Regions from separate parts of the Homo sapiens genome. Here all the other regions are linked to region 1. Evidence: fine-mapped expression QTL. A gene starts in region 1. Each other region holds a variant in brackets. All regions are shown on one strand. Distances are between the middles of the regions. Region 1 holds the start of TAFA2 (TAFA chemokine like family member 2). Region 2 overlaps TAFA2 (TAFA chemokine like family member 2). Region 3 overlaps TAFA2 (TAFA chemokine like family member 2). Region 4 overlaps TAFA2 (TAFA chemokine like family member 2).

Region 1 (5,000 bases):
AATTTTGAAAGAAGTTCTACTGTGGATAAAATGCTATCAAGCAGCATTGCATGTTACAGAGAAATCTTTTGTGAAAGGAAGAGTCAATTGACACAGCAAACCTCATTATTGTCTTATTTTAAGAAATCGCCACAGCAATTCCAACCTTCAGCAACCACTACCCTGATCCATCAGCAGCCATCAACACTGAAACAAGACTCTCCATCAGCAAAGAGATTAGGAATCACTGAAGGCTCAGATCATCAGTACACTTTTTTTAAAAAAAGCATTAAACCATTTTCAAGGTAAGATATGTACATTTTTAAGACAAAATGCTATTGCATACCTAATGGACTGCAGTATGGTGTAAACATAACTTTCACATGTGTTGAGAAACCAAAAAAATTGTGTGACTCACTTTATTGCAATATTTGTGGTGGTTTGGAACCAAACCTGCAACATTTTTGAGGCATGCCTGTAGAAGGTAAGAAGTATCAACAAAAAATTTCTGTTAAATTAGGAGAATCTTTACTACTTTGTTTCCTTTGAAGAGAATGCAAAAGATTTTATTTTGTCTAGGAGATGCTGGAAATAGGAATATCTTGATCTAAAAATTATTGGGAATTATTTACAAAAAGCACAGAGGTTATGATAGAATTTCAGCATCATATGACATTGGATAAGAAATTTTGTTCTATTTTGTAATTAATTTATATATCTGTTCTCTTTACTTTTTCATATATTGTAAAAACACAGTGGGTTTAGTTAGAAAAATAAGGCTGAAAATGTCCCACACTTAAACAATACAAATAAAATTTTAACAAGATGACAAAACTATAGATTACAACCACAAAAAGTTAATGAATTAGAAGGTAGAAAGATTATAATGTATGCTTTATGTTTTTTTGTATGTGTGTGTGTGTGTGTGTGTGTGTGAAAAGAAAGCCAATGTTCTAAAGTGATTTTGTAAGTGACTTCTTTCTAGTACAGAGTCCAAGTTTCCAATGTCATTCCTGCTTGAATTTCATCACACTATTGAACACAGCAGACAAAAAAATACTGTAAGATTTGCAGTGCAACAGTGCCAGGTGTTTTAAAATGTAAACGTTGCTTTCCTGGATATAAGTTACTATGTAAGTGGAATGAAATATTTAATCACATGGCATAAATCTTTTGAAAGAGACTATCTGAGAGATCCTTGGAAACAAATGATTGCTGTATACTACTAGACAAAGTCAAATATGCCATAGAGCAATTAGTTACGGTAAAACTTGCCTTGTTTAGTTTTGGTGCTTTGTTTTAAATGATTTCAACTAGTCTCAGCTATTTAAAAAATACATTCTTTTCTTTCTTTATGACTGTGCTAATTTAGATTATCAAGTTAAAATAGAACTGCTCCAGAAATTCAGAGTGAATGGAAGGGTGTTTAATAATAACTTTAATACACATTTTACAATTTTTGAACATACAGAAACATTTTGAAAGCAAACCCCCAGCTCAAATAGTAAGTTCACAAAAATCTAAATGTTAAGGTTACAGATGGGACCTAGCTTGATTTGGACTGATGTAACAAAACTTTATAAAATCGGTGGAGCTATTTTTTATAAAAATGACCACCTCAACATAATTAAATTACTTGATGCATTTTAGATACAAAATATGGTTGATTTACTAAGCATGTTAAGATAAAATAGCTAAGTGAAGCACATATTCTATATTTCTTTGTAAATATGGTATGTAGTATTACTTTTATTTTATAGCTGGTGAAGAGAGCTTGTGATACCTAATTTGTCAATGGTTTCAGTGAATCACAGCTATATAAAAGCACAGACCTTTAGAGCTGGAAGGAATTTAGCTATCTTGACCATTATTGGTCTAGTTGAAAAAGAGGTATGAAAACTGGCTCCAAAACCAGATTCTTGAGTTATCTTTCCTTGTAAAGGACTTGTAAAATTTCCTGGGTCAGCATTCCCTTTCTTTGTTTCAGATTTTCTTTTTCTGAATTCATTCTTACTAATTATTCATTTTTGAATAGTCTTCTAATCACTAGATTAAGGTTTTGCTCATCTCCAAACATGATCGAAGTGAGCCTCAGAAGACCCTTCATTTGAGCTCATATGCACAGCGCTTAAACCGACACCCAATTTGACCAAACATGTAAGGACATGACCTTCCAGCGTCATGAATATCACGACGTTCCTTTAGCAAGGGCTTTGCTTAATAGGGCTGCAGTGAAAATCCTCCGTCTAAATCCTTGAGAAGTTGTAATTTGTAAAAATGCAAATTATCTGAAACCAGATATTTTTTTCTTTTTCTTTATGGAGAGAAACTGGTCTGTTACATCTAGTAAAGCGTTCTAATCCGGTTGACCCTCTAGAGGGAGACATAGTCCAGCTTTTATACCAGTTGCCTCCTCATCTTTTACTGTCTCGTTCTTTTTCTGCAGGACCGTTGTTTGCTCTCAACGGCAGTTGCTGGGGCTAACAGAACTGGCTGTTGGGAGAGAGAGGCGAGGCAACGCCGCCCGGCCCTGCCATTCCATTTTACTGCTTAACTCAACCTGGAGTGTCAGGACCTATTCTCCTGCATTCTCGCTGCACTATACGGGGGAGCCAAGTCACTCTGTACTCACTGGACAGCCAGGCTGGGTGGAATAGGGTTCTAGAGTGGAGCAGGGGCTCTGCCCTTTATGGCGACTTTCTAAAAGATTAGCATCAGTGTCTTTTGACAGTATAGCATCTGGGGTGGGACGCGGAGAGGAGGCTTTGCTTGCTAAACGGCTTCTTTCTCCGCCGGTGATCTGGATTTGTTTCCTCGGCCCCCTCCCCCCGCTCCTTTCTTTCTCCCCTCCCGCCTTTAGCAAAGTGACACAGGCGACACCTGCTCGCTTGTGTTCGATGTTGGAACTCGCACCTCCTCGGTGGTGACGGTGCCAGGGCACTGCTACCAGGGGGACATCGGCGGGTTTCCCTTCCTTCCAGCCCACGATGCCTAGAAGGGCAGCGGGTGGGCTGCGTGGGGCTCTGCCCGCAGCACTTCGAGGCGGGATTGAGGGGCTGAAGCTGGCCAGGAGTTGCTGCTAAGTGGATTCGAGTGGAAGGCGCCAAGTCTCCGCGAGGGCACCAGCGGGGACCTATCTGCGAGCAGTGGGAACAGGGGCACCTGGACGGAGGAACGCGGGCGTCTGGAGGGGGGACATCGGCTGAGCTCAGAGCCTCTCCTCCTTCCTGTCCCGAGCTTCCCAGCAACTCCGCCACGTTGGAGACCCGGTACCTGCGAGAGCCAGGGAACTCGAGAAGTGCGTGGCCGAGGCTGCTTTCCTGAAGGTGAATCATTCTGTCCAATTGCCTTTCCCCAGAGAACAAGAGGGAGGGCGGGAGAGAGGGAACGGAGGATGTGTGAGTGTGTGTGTGTGTGAGAGGGAGAGACGACGTGAGGCGAGAGGAAAAGTCTTTAGTCGGCCTTAAAAGCAAACAAATCAGAGATGGAATAAGAGCGGTAATTGCAGCAAGACCGCCTTGATTCTTGCAGTCCAGGGAGCTGAGCGCACCGCGCGCATCCGGCGAGGACAGGAGGCGACCGCGGGCGCTGCCAAGGGCTGCGGGACTTTGGCTTTTCCTCAGTAAACAAATCTTTTGATTACTTTGACACTGTGGAATAAAGAAGCGGGGAGAAGGATCAGGCTCACCTTCACCCGCTTCAGGGGGATTCCAGCTTGGATGTCAGATTCCTGAACCGTCTTTGCCATCGGAGGAGGAAACACATCCACACACGCGCGCGCACACTCGCACGCTCAGGGCCACACTCACACGCCGCCCTCCACGATCACACAGCACCAGACTTCGGTTCCCTATGCCCCTGGATGGTGACGGCGGATTGGCATCTTGGAAGCGATGCGAGAGCGATAAGGCTGGCGCCGGCCCGCAAAAGCTGCAGGAGCATCGCTAGGTGTTGCCGCCACCGGGAAGCGGGGCTGCAGGTAGGTGCGAGCCGCGCCTCGGGTCGCCGGCCAGCGCTGGGGACCGGAGCGGCAACTGCAGGACCGCGGTCCCGGAAGCCCCCGTGTGCACACGTCTCCCTTCCCCTTTCTCGGGGGTCCGGGACTGTAGAGGGATCGCCCGGGGAAGGCGAGAGGTGAGGGCAGATGCGGGTCCATCGGCCGGCGTCTCCCTCGCGGGCGGTCAGGGTAGGGGCGGAGTAGAGGGACGCCGAGAGGGGATCGGAGCATGCGAAATGAGGCTCCGTGAGCGGTGCCCTCCCTCTCTGCCCCATTTCTCCTAATAACAGCAAACGACCAGGTCGAGGATTGAAGTGGGTTGTAATTCGATTCCTCACCCAGACCCATCCTGGCTGGTAACCATTTTGGACTCTTAATAAGGAGTTGGGGGTCGCATTCCAGGGAAGATCAATGGGATGTGTCAGGTCATCTTTCTGAAATCCCTACTTTTTGTCCACTTCTGATTAGTTAATTCTCAGGCCTGTTTGCAGAAGGTGGGTGTTTCAGCGAGTCTATTGATTTATCCACCTCTAACTATCTTCATAAAGAATCAAGCTGATAATTTCCGGAGCCTCATCTATGTAAGGTTTATTTAGATTTGGGACGGGGCGCTTTCTTACTGAATGAAATAAAGCTTTTGTAAAGGCTACTACAAGAGAGCTTTAGTAAATGATTCTCTTAACGAACAGCGTTCAGAATAAGAATGGCTTCGGGAAACTAATGGTTTTTTATTTCTTTCCGGTTAGATGTCTCCCGGATCTTGCTACTAGTACCCGGGTTTTCTGCTAACTGCTTTGCCATTCCTTCCCCCTTCAATTCTGAAAGGCCAGGTGCCTACCAAGTATTGTTTTCTTGAGGCTACTGATCTTCACTTATCAATGGGGGAACGTGTTATTTTCAGAAACTGGCTTTGCAAAGGAAAGTTTGAGATCCGTCGCCCTATTTCTCTCAGAACTGCAGGTTGAGTTATCCTGTCTGAAAAGGAAGAACCATAGACGCTCGTAGAGCCTTTGGGTGGACGCGA
Region 2 (5,208 bases), 110 kb after region 1:
ATGTTTACCTGAATTTTGGCTAGGGGGTGTCCAATAAGTATTTTTCTTCTTTTTGGAAACTCCTTTACTCTCTTCTGAGAAGACACTCTTGTAATAGCAGGGAGGTATAGAAGGAAGAAGTTGTCATTACCATTCAGAAACTTATAGAAACTGTAGTAGTGCATTTTCCACCCAAAGAAATGATTCAGATAAGCTCATATGCAAATCAGGTCATACGAGATTTATATCAGATCAGATTTCTCCTTCAGTTCATAATCCTATTAATAAAACGAAAACAGCTTTTCAATCCCCGGTGCCTGGAATTTAGAAGATGCTCAGCAAATATTTACTGGGTAACAGAGCCTACTGGTTAAAAGCCTGAATTCCAGAATGAGATACTGGGGATTTAGATCTTGGCTTTTACTGGCTGTGTGATCTTGGGCAAGTTTCTGTTTTTGCCTTGGTTTCCTCATCTGTAAAAGGAGGTTAGTAATAGCACCTACTCTCAAAGGGATGTTGCAAGGATTAAATGGAAAAAAAATCACTGTAGAGCAATGCAGATTAATAGTATATCTTGTGTTAAGTGTTAAGTTTCCTTTTTTGTGAATGACTAAATGACATAAATTATTCTTAGAGGCTATATTTTAAATTTATATTGAATATTCTTCAGAATTCAATTGAAATGTTCCACTGTGATGAGTTGGTGACTGGTTATTATTTCAATACTTGATGTAATTACTGTTTCCTTTGCTTGACTTCATATCCTACATCAAAAGATTCTATGTGCTCAGATGTTTAAGTGCTCCTTGGAGACTTAGTCAGAAATCATGCTCCTTGGAAGAAATATCTAAACTTGACAAGCTTCATGAAAGCAGGGCTGTGTCATGTGTGTCAGATAGCCCCAGCGCCTCACTGCTTGGAACCATATCTGGCACTTAGCAGTGCTCAATGTTGGTTGCATCAACAAACATTGACTGTGCTATGCCCCTTGGAATGCAAGATAAACAAGATGTGATATTTGTACACCTTAAAAAAATAGCTGCTTACTACTAAAGATGAAAGGAGCATTAGTGGAATAGGAAGTGCCTCAGGCCACATTAGAAAAAACCTAGAGGCAGAAATACCATTTGACCCAGAAATTCCATTACTGGTATATACCCAAAGGAATATAATTTGTTCTATTATAAAGATACATGCACACATATGTTCACTGTGGCACTACTCACAATAGCAAAGACATAGAATCAACCTAAATGTCCATCAATGATAGTCTGGATAAAAGAAAATTTGGTACAAATACATCATAGAATACTAGGCAGCCATAAAAAGGAATGAGATCATGTCCTTTGCAGGGATATGGATGGAGTTGGAAGCCATTATCCTCAGCAAACTAATGCTGAAACAGAAAACCAAACACTGTATATTCTCACTTATAAGTGGGAGCTGAACAATGAGAACACATGGACACATGGGGGTAACAACATACACTGGGGCCTGTCGGGGGTGGGGAGGAGGGGAGGGAGAGCATCAGGAAGAATAGCTAACGGATGCTGGGCCTAATACCTAGGTGATGGGATGATCTGTGCAGCAAACCACCATGGCACACGTTTACCTACCTAACAAACCTGCACATCCTGCACATGTACTCCTGAACTTAAAATACAAGTTGAAGAGGTTGGGCGCGGTGGCTCATGCCTGTAATCACAGCACTTTGGGAGGCTGAGGCGGGCGGATCATTTGAGGTCAGCAGTTCAAGACAAGCCTGGCCAAAAAAGTGAAACCCCGTCTCTACTAAAAATACAAAAATTAGCCAGGTGTGGTGGCGGGCTCCTGTTGTCCCAGCTACTTGAGAGGCTGAGGCAGGAGAATCACTTGAACCTGGGAGGCGGAGGTTGTAGTGAGTCGAGATTGCACCACCGTACTCCAGCCTGGGTGACAGAGAGAGACTCCATATCAAAACAAACAAACAAACAAACAAAATAAAAAACAAAAAAAACAAGTTGAAGAAAAAAATTGGAATCTGCTTCTTGGTTCTTTACCTAACTTGCTGTGGAAAAAT[A/TA]TTTATTCTTTCTCAGACTCAGGGTTTTTTCCACTTGTGAAATGAAGAAAGTAATTCATGTTTTACCTATTTTATATAGTTTTTTAAATAACGAATGTGACAATAATTATGAAAGTAACTTGAAAAATTAAAGTGATTAAATAATTGCAAATATTTTCTTAAAATTCTATAAATAGAAATAATATATAGGGGAATTTTTTTTGTGAGATGGAGTCTCGCTCTGTCGCCCAGGCTGGAGTGCAGTGGCGCGATCTCGGTTCACTGCAAGCTCCACCTCCCGGGTTCACGCTGTTCTCCTGCCTCAGCCTCCCGAGTAGCTGGGACTACAGGCGCCCCCCACTACGCCCGGCTAATTTTTTGTGTCTTTTCGTAGAGACAGGGTTTCACCGTGTCAGGCAGAATGGTCTCGATCTCCTGACCTCGTGATCCGCCCGCCTTGGCCTCCCAAAGTGCTGGGGTTACAGGCGTGAGCCACCGCGCCTGGCCAGGGGAATGTTTTAATGCAAGGTCAAATAGATCATTTATCAAAGGTTTAGGAGGCTACTTTTTAATGAACCTGTTGTAGAGATTACTTTTCATGGACATTAACAGAAAGATAAGTTGAGACCATTTTTTTCATTTCCGTCACCTTGTAAATTTTAGAATATAAATATTTTATTTATGACTGTATTTATGACTATTTCATACAAAGTGGCAATCATTGTTTTACAAATTATGAAACTGAAGACCAAAGAAGTTCAGGGATTTAATAGATGCACACTACATTATGTATAGATTTTAGAATTTTGTAAAGTTCACATATGTGTCAAATCAGAGAAGCCATACCAGTAGCACACATTCATTCCCATGTCTATGATTCACTTTTACTTTTTTTTTTTCTTTTCTTTCTACCCAGGGGATAATTCAATTTAGTGCATGATTATGTGGTAGAAAGAAACTATTATCAGTAGGAAGGGTAATGTGGTAGGCAGAATTTTAAGACAACCCCCAAGATTTTCACCCCCTGTACATACTTGTATAATCCTCTGCCTTCAAGAGTGGGCCAGAACTGTGAATAAAAGGGACTTTAAGACAAGAAAAACATCCTTGATAAGCCTGACCGAATCAGGTAAGCTTTTAAAAGAGACTGGGCATTTCCTGGAGAAAGGGATTCTAAGTGAGTGGGATATACATATCCCTTTGACATAAGGGAGAATCTTTGTTGCTTGCTTTGAGGATGAAGGGGGCCCTATGGCAAGAATTGTAGCTGGCCCCTCAGAGCTGAGCAGCCTCTGCTGACAGAGAGTGATGAATTGGGGACCACAGTTCTACAACTTCAAGGAACTGAATTCTGCTACCATTACATGGTCTTGGAAGAGCACTTGAGCTCCGGATGAGAATGCAGCCTGGCTGACCCCTTGATTTTAGCCTATAAGATCTGAGCAGAGAAACCAGTCTCTTTGTGCCTGAAATTCTGACCTGTAGAACTGTGAGCTAATAAGTGGGTATTGTTTTAAGCTGTCAAGTTTGTCGTAATTTGCGATGTGGCAGTAGAGAATTAATAAAGAGGGAAGATACTGACTTTGCTGTTAGTGTGCTGCTTGATGCACTTTTTTTGTGAGAAGCTTCACCTGATAAAAGTGGATAGATTGGGTCAGATTAACCTGAATATCCTAGAATTATTTTGAGACAGGAATGTTGATTTTTGATCACAGATTTAGTAACAACATGCTGTTAAAAATTTTTTTTTTTTTTTGAGACAGAGTCTTGCTCTGTCACCCAGGCTGGAGTGTAGTGGCACGATCTCGGCTTACTGCAACCTCTACTTCCCTGGTTCAAGCAATTCTCCTGCCTCCGTCTCCCGAGTAGCTGGGAGTACAGGCACATGCCACTATGTCTGGCTAATTTTTTTTTTTTTTTTGTATTTTTAGTAGAGACGGGGTTTCACCATGTTGGCCAGACTGGTCTCAAACTCCTGACCTCAGGCAATCAGCCCTCCTCAGCCTCCCAAAGTGCTGGGATTACAGGTGTGAGCCACGGCGCCCGGCCACTGTTAAACTTTTATCAAGCCACAGTGTTGTCTACAGTCCCAGAGGCCTATCAGGAATATCAACTAATTTGCAATTAATTGATAAAATATATATTTGATAGAGAGGCATGTATGGGTGATCCAGTTGTAGCTGGGTGTATGGGACCAACAATTTCCCTAGGCTTCTTTGTTCATGGGTAGACTTGTTTAGAGGAAAGCATCCTGCAAGGGAGATGTTAGTGTGTGGTTCCTGAAGAGCTGACGCTGGAGAGAGGGGCAGCTGCAGATGATAACATGGCATCGTAAACTCAGTGTGACTTCACTGGCAACACTCGAGTCCTTTAGAAAGAAAGGCTGTAGTTGGAAGCTAAAGAATTGTTTTTAAGAAAAATTTGTGAAACATGCCCATAAGCTGAACTACATGGATCTCCAGGGGACAAAGTGAACCAGGGTGGAGCATTTTAGTGTTCTTCCCTCTTCCTCCTGTCGCACATGGCATTGCTCTGGTGATATGAAGGCCATAGCTCATGATGGAGGTACCCAGAGTGTCACTGTAGTTCAGATAAATATTGGCTCTTGCATAAATAGAAATTAACATCACGCCAAAAAGAAATTTTTCTCAGGCAAGGTTTAATAGGCTTGCAGCTCTAGCAAGACAAGGGAGGAGCATAAGGGAAAGAGATCCTGGTGCCAGCTCCCCAAAGGGCTAAGCTCTTGTCATTTTAAGGAAGCTGAAGCGAGAAAAGGAGTGATGTGTAGGCACGTAGAGGTGGGGAATTTTTAGCATCTGCACAGTCTGATAACATGCTTCTTTATGTGTCATATGTCTCATTGGCCTGTTAAATCTACACCCCTGGGTGTGATTTTAGTATTATAATGAGATTATGAAGAGGAAAAAAATCAGTGAAAGGCCAGTGCTGAGTCCAACTTGTCTTTAGCTGGCTGGATCTGATCCAGTTCTTTTTTTTTTTTTTCCAATTATACTTTAAGTTTTAGGGTACGTGTGCATAGTTCTTATGGGGAATGCCAGACTCTTCCTTTTGTAACCTTGGGAGATGGTCAGTTTCTTATCAGGAATACCAGAGTCCCACTTTAGCAACCTTGGGAGACATTGTTCAAGGAGGTAAACGTTAGGCTCTGCCTTTTATGGTTAGGAATTCAG
Region 3 (5,208 bases), 150 kb after region 1:
AGTTTTCCTCCTTTCCGATTTCACCATTCATCTTATTTTCCCTCAGAATTTCTTTTGGATCACAGTTCTCATTCTTAAGTTCTCCGTTAGCTCTCAGATCTCTTGCTCTGGTCTTCCTTACAGCAGGCAGTTTGTATTCTTTCCTGTCTTTTGTTGACACTCTGTATACAATACTGGTTAGGGTAGCCTCCTTGCTGTTGGTTATGTATGTGTTGTGAATGATAAAGTTTCCCTCATACTGTTCTGGGTAGCCATTGTAATTTGATTGATTTTGGTAAGGAGAGAGGAAAAAGAAAAAAACATTAGATTCTCTACATATAGTGTTTCTCAATTTTTAAAAACAGGAACATCTAAAATAGCTTCAGGTTAGAATCTGACACTTTAGCATTAGGCTACTGCTTTTTAATAGAAGACATAGCAAAAGTTTGTAGAGCATAATTTTGAAAGCATAACATCTTTAATCATAAATATTTTGGTTGTTTGTGAATATTTTATTTTTGGCTTCAAATTTCAGAATCCACAGCACTTTGCTTTGACAGAAAGCAGCTTTGTTTTACTGGTAACATCTCCCCCAGGGAGGTCACTACGTGCATCGTGTGATGAAATCTGGATTTTTGTCTTATAAGTTATTCCCAGGAGAGCATGAAACTTAAAAAAAATTTCTTGGTCAGGTTCCAGCCAAAAGCATATAGTATTTAATGAATAACTAATACAGATAATTAACAGATTAAGAGAATGTGTGAGCCCAAGCATGAACAGAGAAGTTGGGAGGGAAGGTATCAGCATAAAAAAAGTTGGAAATGAACAGGGCAACTGGAGCATGAATGAAATCAATTTAATTGTATGGATTTATATTTCTTTGGAAGTACATTCTTATTTATTTTTCTGTACGACCTAGGCTGTGTCTACATTAAGTAAAGAGTATCTGTGCCTCAGATGTCTGCCAGATAAGCTAGTTAGGTTTCTCCATAAAGAAAGCTATTGCTATATCTAACGGATGATTCAGTCTGTTCTTCCCTGCAAAAAGAATGTTGTCTTTGGTATCCAGGGCCTTAAAATGTCAGGCACAGTGATTTTCCAAGGGCCCAAGGAACACAGATGGAGGTGCTTCTCTGCCAAATTTTAGGGGAAGCAGAATTCAGCCTGATCATCCTGGGTCTTATTCTGTTCTCACATGGTTTAGAAGCTTGCAGGAGATTGATCGTTTGCCTTCATTTTTCCATTATATCTGGGAGAGATTTTAAGCTCAGCTGTTCAACCAGCATTTGGATAGCAGTACCTAAAAAGGCAGAAAGATAAAGATGGAGCCTAGTTCTCATGAACTTTTCCAAAACCAGTTGGCCCCCATGTTGTTTGGCACGTGACTGAAGTCTGCCTAGGACTGTTGATTTAACAGCAGGTAGGAAGCAAACAGTGGAGCTGGACAAAAAGAGCAGGAGCCTGAGTTGAAAATCACTTGCCATCTTCATGTTTATTAGTCCTGGTTCTCTTGGTCTGTGCCACGCTGACACCTGCCTGGTGTAAGCCAGAATTCAGGTTATGCGGGCTTTCTTTACTTGTGGGAAATGTCCACACTTGGTCTTGTTTTATCCCCAGAATCTTGCCCTTTGCTCCCTTTTGATAGCCCCTTTCCCAGACTTAGATTCTTAGCATCCTTGTGATCCATTTCCTCTCACCACTTTTTGTAATTATAGACTTTTTGTTACTCTAAGTAGTATAAATATGGTAGAAGTTTCAAATGTTAAAACACTCAGATTATTGCCAATTTTACTAGTATTAAGAACTTGAACTAAAAAGCTTTCGGCAATTCAAACAATAGGAAATACATGAGGAGTAGAGGAGATTTTGGAATCTGAGTTTTCCTGGTATCTTAAAAAAATACTTTTTTTTTTTAACACCCACTGCCCAATAATACCTTAGGAGCATACTGTTAGTGGGTTCTCAAATACCTCTATGTCTGAAAGTATGCATTGCAAAGATGGAAAAAGGTTTGCAGATTGTGTAGAACACTTGCAAGCCTCGAGAGTAATTAATAGTTTTGTGAATTGAAGGGGATTATATTTGCTTTAGAGTGTTAGAACAAGTGCCACTTGTAACTTTTCTGTGCTTTCCCTCGTTTGTTTTATTTTTCCAAAGTAGTTATCATAATTGTTAATACAGCCTTCAATCTAATGCCAGCAAAGCTTTTACAAATCTCCATAAAATGCCCCAGCATGTGGTTTCAATCAATGTGTAGGGATTTATGGATTTGACATAGGATGAAACTATCATGTATTATATGCAAGATATAATTCTTACCTTTGAAGATCTTAGATTCCTTGCAAGATGCTTAATATAAAAACACCAAGTAAAATTTAAAGATATATTTAATTAATACTTGAGATTCAGTTACCATAATAATTCTTTTTTTTAAATTTTATTATTATTACACTTTAAGTTTTAGGGTACATGTGCACAATGTGCAGGTTTGTTACATATGTATACATGTGCCATGTTGGTGTGCTGCACCCATTAACTCGCCATTTAACATTAGGT[G/A]TATCTCCTAATGCTATCCCTCCCCCCTACCCCCACCTCACAACAGTCCCCGGAGTGTGATGTTCCCCTTCCTGTGTCCATGTGTTCTCATTGTTCAATTCCCACCTGTAAGTGAGAACATGTGGTGTTTGGTTTTTTGTCCTTGCGATAGTTTGCTGAGAATGATGGTTTCCAGTTTCATCCATGTCCCTACAAAGGACATGAACTCATCATTTTTTATGGCTGCATAGTATTCCATGGTGTATATGTGCCACATTTTCTTAATCTAGTCTATCGTTGTTGGACATTTGGGTTGGTTCCAAGTCTTTGCTAGTGTGAATAGTGCCGCAATAAACTAATTAAATGAAAATATTCTTCTTAAATACAGCAGGATTTAATACATACATTAAAATATTGTGAATTAAAATGACATATTTTACATTTCTGTTTTAGGAATGAAAAATAACTACTTATAAATGTTACTTTTGTCCTTGTTATCTGTGGCTGACATCTCTATCCCCCTTTTATTGAAGATATAATTTTTATTTTATAAAACTATAGTGATCTTTAGAAATTATTAAGTTCTGATGATGAGGACCCTACAGAAGGGGAGGAAAGGCAGGGTGCTGACGGTCTTGCATTGGGGCAGATCCAAGGAATGGTCACCACACAGGTTGTGTTTAAGACTGGGCTGGATGTAGCACAATTAACCTTGCCAGGATAGATTATGCTTACAGGCGACCCCGCTGGAATGAGGCAGGCATTGAGATGATATGTGTGGTTCAATACAGTTGATGATATGGAGGGCACATTATAAAGATGTATAGTAACAGAAAAAATATAGGCTCATCATGGAGTTATAAGTGTTTTGATAGGCAAGGTAAAGTAATATCATGCAAGTACTTAGGATTCTAGGTAGATATGTAGGCTGGTAAAACAAGAGAAACCATTCAACTAATAGTAAGGTTTCAGGTACTAGAACAGAATTCAGGGCAAGGCTCTATTCCAGCAGGGACACTGGCCAGATGAAGGCAAAGTCTCAGTTTTTGAGACATACTTGCATTATGCATGTCACACACACACACACACACGCGCACACACACACACACACACACACACACAGACTTCAATGCAGAATTTAGGACTAAATCTGGTGGTCAGAATTGGGATGCAAGCACCTGAACTGGATTAGCAGCCAAGGAGACTTATGCTGTTTCTGTTTGAACCTAATTGTGGCCTAGAACTGTTAACAGTGTTCCTCCATGAGATCAGGATTGACCTAGACACTGAGCAGAGTTGAGTATTTACGTGCTTTTGCTTGTAGGGATAAGAGAGCTTGGGAATGGGTACGACTCCCCATGAAGGGGTGTCTTCTGCCTTGAGGATTCCCTTCAGATATGAAGGAGTTGCCACAATGGAGGCGGCCTTCTTTGAGACTTTCCATCCTGATCATTATTTGAAATACATTAATATACAGTATTAAGACCACATGGATAAATTAAATGCCTCTCAGAGATCCTTTATAGCTCTGGGATTCTGAAAATAAGCATTTCATAATAAAAAGAATGCTATATCATTTGCTCTTTTGTATTTTTGTATTTTAAGCAATATTGAAATCTTCTTTCAGAATTTACATCTGAATGAAAGTTTGCCTTAAAATGAAGTAGGATAATCTTTGAAAAAAATCTTCTAGGGTTGTGAGAAATCTTTATTAAAGCATAAACCTTTATGTAATCTTAAGCATAGCACAAAAACATGATGTTAATAAAAGCACTTAGATTCTATATTGTAATGTACCTATGGTTTATGTCTTGATGATTTTTTACTCTTTATTGAGGAGAGGAATAACTAAGTATACATGCAATTCAGATAGTTACTTCCAAATTCTGCCTTTAGCTAGATGACCAGTTAAAGTTGTTCACCTGACCAGAAAAGCCATTTTACTAACACATTTGTGGGAAAATATTTTATTTTGTCAGCAGTAAACTCTGATTACCTTTATGTGAATGGTTTCTTCAGCCACCTTATGCACAATGTCCTAGATAAGAGAAATATCTTTTAACTATTTCTGTAAAGTTACAAAGCTTTAGTTTCCGAAATCCACTTTCAGTACCTTCCTCACTTTAATAACTTTTTTCATGGAGTTCACCAGTCCACAGGAGGCCAGTTATAGTGCCATGCAAAGAATATGAGTTTTGGGGGCAATAGATGTGACTTTGAAAATTTTTCTTTTTTTCAAAGCTCTCTGATCTTGGGCAATTGACCTAACATTTCTGTGTTTTCTGACCGATGAAAGGTGGATAAGACACCTCCCTCAGAAGATTGTAGATATTACATAAGAAAACAGTTAAATCAATAACATAATGCCTGCAGGCTTATAATTTCACATAAAGATTAGTTTTTTCTCAGCTTTAGTTTCTGATATGAACAATATAGATACTGCCTACCTCATCAGATTGTTTTGAGAACAAATGATAAAAACGGTCTGAATAATAGGGTCTTGTTAGACATATAAGTGTTTGTTTATTATTAGTCTTTCTTGTTCACGGCTCAAGTGCTCAAAAATATTTTGAGATTTCCTAATCACATGGCCTGTTGAAGTTGTTCTTTTGACCAGAAAGGTCATTTTAGAAAAACAATAATTGTTTAGGAAGTTTCTGTGAAATTTTTACATGTCTCTCTTTATATTCAGTT
Region 4 (5,208 bases), 91 kb after region 1:
AAAGCCAGTTAGCTTACACCGATGGTCACCCCGATTACCAGGTAAATTTAGGATGAAGCGTGCATGACAAATTGTACCATCAAGTCCTCTTAGTTGAGGACTAGTTATTGCTTATCTTGAAAATATGTATGTAATGATTTGTATCTGTGTGGCTGTATACAAGAGTGAGATTTCTTTCATTCTCTGGAATCTCTAAGCAGATTACCTATGATGCACATTCCATTTTGGTTTAATGCTTATTCAATGGTAAAAATGTTTTCTTTCTTGCTACTTTTATGGATAAGATTTCTGGGTTGGGAAAAGATTTTGTTTTTAATTCTCCTCAACAAAAGACACGGGCTAATATAAAAAGTAACACTTTGACCAGCTTGTGACTTTAGTTGTACTATGCTTTTCCTTCTTTAATCAGATGCGCAATTCAGAGCAAACCCTGGTGTCTAAAATCGCTGAGGGTTAATCAATATTATGTAAAAAGAAAAAGACCATTACATTAGCTTTTTTTTTTTTTGCTTCAGAAGAACAGCATTCCAAATTCAACTGTGAAAGCTATTGTGAAGATAGGATTAGCTAAATGGCACGTTTGTCACTTTTCCTTTTAATTATTACTCAATAAATTCCCTCAAACAAGCTATATTTAGGCTAATTTTATTCTATTAAAATTATCACTATTCATTTTAAATATCACTTGCTTTCAATTATATTGTAGGATTCTGCAAAATGTTAAACTTGGCATTGCCAACTCAAAGGTGACTTGTGGTACAGGAATGATTTATGCCTGTGGAATTGCAGAAGTCTAAAAATAGGTCTTGATGTTACTTTAATATGTACTGCAGTACACAGGCACAATAGGGTTAGAGGAGGATGGAGTTTCATCCCTAACTCTCAGTTTTCCTGCTTTTGTCTCTGAGTCTGAGCAATGCCTGAATAATTAGACATTGTTCATTTATCATTTGTATCATTTCCTATCAATGCATACCATCCTGCCCCTCCAGTTCCCAGGTGTTTATGAGGAAGCATGTAGTCTTTTTTTTTTTTTTCTTTTTGAGAAGGAGTTTCATGCTTGTTGCCCAGGCTGGAGTTCAATGGCGCAATCTTGGCTCACCGCAACCTCCGCCTCCCGGGTTCAAGCGGTTCTCCTGCCTCAGGCTCCCGAGTAGCTGGGACTACAGGCATACGCCATCACACCTGGTTAATTTTATATTTTTAGTAGAGATGGGATTTCTCCATGTTGGTCAGGCTGGTCTCGAACTCCTGACCTCAGGTGATCCATCTGCCTCAGCCTCCCTGTAATGCTGGGATTACAGGTGTGAGCCACCATGCCTGGCCGGAAGCATGTAGTCTTTAATAAGCCATTCTGCACAACTCTAGTTGCTGTTTGAAGACACCCTTCATATATTGGACTGGATAATAACAGATCATTGCTGGTTCTGATGGGGTAAGTGTGTGATTTTGACCTTAGGATGAAATTGGAAATGAAAACATCCAGCTAGACATACAGCAAATATTACAGATTTGAAGAAGTAGTCAGTGTTAGCAAGGTGAATGCCAGAAGTTCTGGGGAAGCAACATTTCTGAATGAACAGCAAACAGGATTTTGGTCAACGTTTCCTCCAGTGCGATGCTTCTGATTTCAGCTGTAATGAGTGTAAGATGACAGTGTTAAAAGATGCTTTTCTTCAACTTTTCTGAGTGTGAACTCTGATCAGATGAATGGGAGTCATGAAATTGAGTTCACACATCTATTGTCAGCAGGGCTAGAGGTTGCATGAGCACAAGGATGTGCTGTAGAAAGAGAAGTCGAGGCTAGTACTACCCAGAATATATGTGGGAAACATAAGTTTCTCTCCTCTTTGGAGAGACTGTAGTAGACTGCTGATAAGACAGATACAAAGGCGATGGACCAACTGTGCTCAGGACAGCCCTAGAGTCTTCTTAAGTGAAGTCTATGAGTATTAAACATGGTAGATATATGATTTACCTAAATATGTGCTAGCTTATTTTTCCTCTACCGTAATACATCTTAGTATTTTTCTCTTTCTTTAAGCTGATGAGGAAATTGGGTCCAGAGTACATTATTGTATCATAATACAGGAATTGTTCAGATTTAGGAGGTAGCTCTGGAGTTCTCTATAAAGCCATGT[A/T]GTTTAGAACACTTCTGACACTGCTGTTTAGGAAGTAGTTCAGCTCATGGGGTTTACTGGAAAAGATCTCAGGAATCACCATTTCAGCAATCATTGTACATTCTGTAAAGATTTCTATGTTGCTATGGTGCAACAATGTGGAACACGTTACCCTAGTCACCAGCTGTCAATTTAAATACACACTGGGGGGAGTAATCTAATTTTCAGAGAGTATTAACTTGATCTTAATAAATGTTGATGTTTAATTTAATTGTGACCTTCAAGTTACACTTTTCTGAAGAAAAATATCTCATGTTTTCACAACATGAACTGTTGAAAAGTCATGATATTGCAGCTGATTTTTTAATGGACCCAGAAAAATATTTTAAAAATAGCAATAGTTTCTACCTGAACCCAGACCATTCCACTTCAATCCAAATAACATTCTAGTGAATCTCCCCTGATTGCTTACTTTAAACTCAAAGAAAATATAATCAAGGGAGGACAAAGCACAAGTATAATGAAAGCAGGAAGAAAATTTCCTTTTATGCTCTTGCAGTTAATTATATAGCAAGAAACAGCTTTCTCCCACCTGCTCTCCACCTCAGCTTCTTAACTAGGCAAACTCCTACTTGTCCTCCAAGACCCATTAGTACTGTCACTTTTTTTTTTCTATGAATCTTTCTCCAACCTCCTGTCCCACCCACAGGCAGAGCTAATTGCTCTTTCACCATTTTGTCAGCACTACTATGTGTTTTAGGATTTATCTATTTTTACATCTTCCTCCTTCCTTTTCCTGTGGGTTCTTTGAGGACAGGGACTATTCCTTTTCATTTCAATATACCATTGGCTAGTGCTACACTTTCATTTCAATATACCATTGGCTAGTGCTATACCATTGGCTAGTATTAGACTTAGAGTAGGTACTCAGTAAACAGTAAAAATTGAGATAAATGAAAGGGCTCTCAAATAGACTCCAGAAATGGTCCATTCCTACTGTGCTGAAGTAGAACTTACTGTGTAGGGTAGTGATGGTACATGCCATCTGATGGATTGCTCTTATAGAAGCTGCACAAAAGGTTCTGTGGCTTATCAGCTGCAGAGCTGCCTTGGAACCTGCTTGAACTCTACAGTGTTTACCTTTCTGAATAAGAGTTACGTTTGGGCTTATGGAAGAACTAACAATCTAGGGAAATTTGGTTACCAAGTATTGCATGATGAGTGTGCATCTCCAGGTAAATGCAAAGTGTATTCAGTGTATATTTCCAGCTAAGTCCAAATTCGTACTGGACATGGTTATGGATCAGAGATGTATCAGTTCTTAGCACCTATAGACTCATTTAGGAATTAGTTTGATAATTTGATGTCAGCCATGGCACTGTATTGGTTAAATCCATTAGTCATGTATGTATTGGCTCTTAGGGATCTTAGGTGGGCATGGGTAATTCGTTCCATAATCTAATCTATGGAGCTGTTCTTATATTTGAGGGGTCTCTTAGGATCATCAGGACTCTTCTGGGTCCTGGTTTATTCTGGGGCACTCTTGAGAAGTAGATAGTTGTTGTTGGGTAATCTACTAACCTAGGCCATTTCTGCATTCTGAGTGCTTGTGTATAGATATATCTGAAGTGTCTGCAAGTATGGGTATGTTTTAAGGTATCAAAACTCAACATTATTCTGTAGGAAAATGTAGGGTGCAGTATAACACAGTGATTAAGACCTTTTTTCCTGACATACCTATATCACTTAAACTTTTACGCTTCAGTTTCCTCAATTTCTGTGCCATGGGAATCCAATAATACCTACCTTTATGCCACTGTGTAGGTTGGGCATTGTACATTTGCAAGGAGTACCACTCACCTAGTAGTCCATATAACTGGCACTCAAAAGTTTTGAAGAGCACAATGTGCATACCACAATGGGCAGAACTGTTTGCTTATGAGATTAGTGAGTCACTGCATGCAGAGTGCCTAGTGCAGTGCTTGACATTCAAGAAGTACACAAGTGATGATCTTCATTGTTATAGAAAGGTCTACACTGTTCTTTTAGGATGACTGGATGGGATGAGATGTATGATATAGGCTATAACAAGATTTTCAAGTGATCTAACAGGTGGGTAAGGGATTGCAAATATGATCTAGTCCATAAATCATTGCTGGAGTCTATATTTAGAAGTTAGCTAGTATACCAGAAATCTCAGACCAAACTGTACAGGGGTATAAATACAGCCACTTTTCATGTATTTGGAAGCAATTTTCTATCTCCAGCCTTCATTTCTGAAATTTCAGTCCTTTGGGATGTAAATGTTACTAGGAGTAAGGGAATAAACCAAGGAGGCCTCTGACATAGTGGTTTCAAAGACTTTGGTAACATGGAATTGACTTTTTCAGTTCTTCCAGAATTTTAATGGCTCTCAATGAACATATAATAGTTAAACAACATGGTGTTCTCGTTTCCCACCCAGAGAAGATTGAAAGAACAAACTTGAAGGGCTGTGTGTGTGTGTGTGTGTGTGTGTGTGTGTGTAGAGGGAGTTGCTATTATGAAGAGGCAGTGTTTGTGGCAGACATAATGACAGGAAGTGGAATAATCAAAAACTTGACCTTGAGGGATAACAAGAAAAATAAAAAAATTCATATTGATAATTATCCTTGAGACTTTGAGAAAATACATTCAATATTTTCTACTTTAAAAGAATATTTACATCTATAATTTGTTCTCATTTTATAAGCATTTATTGAATAAAACATCATCTAAATGAAAAAAATTTTTCTGACTCAGAGTCAGACTGTATTTGCATCCAGATCCATCTCTTAGGCTGAAGTGATGTGGGCAAGTTACTTATGCTCTGAGCTTTGGTTTACTGATCTGTAAAGTGAAGGGGATACTTCCCACCATGCAGGGGTGCCACGGGGCTGGGATGACATCATATATGTGAAGTGCAGCCAGCAAGGGCCTGGCATATTGCTGGCTCTTGGTGTATTATTTGCCTCCTCATATGCTTGGCAAAATTTATTTATCTAAAATGCTCCATTCTCAATGAGATTTTACTGCATTGCTATTTCTCCGACTGGAAGTTAAATTTATA

What was found. PIP is the estimated chance that this variant, and not a neighbour inherited with it, causes the effect.
Region 2: its variant is the best candidate, but not a certain one, in a credible set for the expression of TAFA2 in aorta (GTEx, PIP 0.51).
Region 3: its variant is the best candidate, but not a certain one, in a credible set for the expression of TAFA2 in whole blood (TOPMed, PIP 0.87).
Region 4: its variant is the best candidate, but not a certain one, in a credible set for the expression of TAFA2 in whole blood (TOPMed, PIP 0.65).

What each region holds. Positions count from the first base shown.
Region 1 is chr12:62,190,217-62,195,216 of GRCh38, reverse strand. TAFA2 (TAFA chemokine like family member 2) reads left to right here and starts at 2,444. Exons shown (of 5, transcript NM_178539.5): 1 at 2,444-3,958. RefSeq lists a silencer at 855-1,149 and an enhancer at 2,519-3,052.
Region 2 is chr12:62,078,229-62,083,436 of GRCh38, reverse strand. All of the region lies in intron 1 of TAFA2 (TAFA chemokine like family member 2), which reads left to right. Among named protein-coding and RNA genes, the nearest start is that of TAFA2, 110 kb to the left of the region's middle. The variant A/TA (reference allele first, on the strand shown) is at 2,039.
Region 3 is chr12:62,040,830-62,046,037 of GRCh38, reverse strand. All of the region lies in intron 1 of TAFA2 (TAFA chemokine like family member 2), which reads left to right. Among named protein-coding and RNA genes, the nearest start is that of TAFA2, 150 kb to the left of the region's middle. The variant G/A (reference allele first, on the strand shown) is at 2,536.
Region 4 is chr12:62,099,577-62,104,784 of GRCh38, reverse strand. The region is part of intron 1 of TAFA2 (TAFA chemokine like family member 2); the gene reads left to right. Among named protein-coding and RNA genes, the nearest start is that of TAFA2, 91 kb to the left of the region's middle. The variant A/T (reference allele first, on the strand shown) is at 2,142.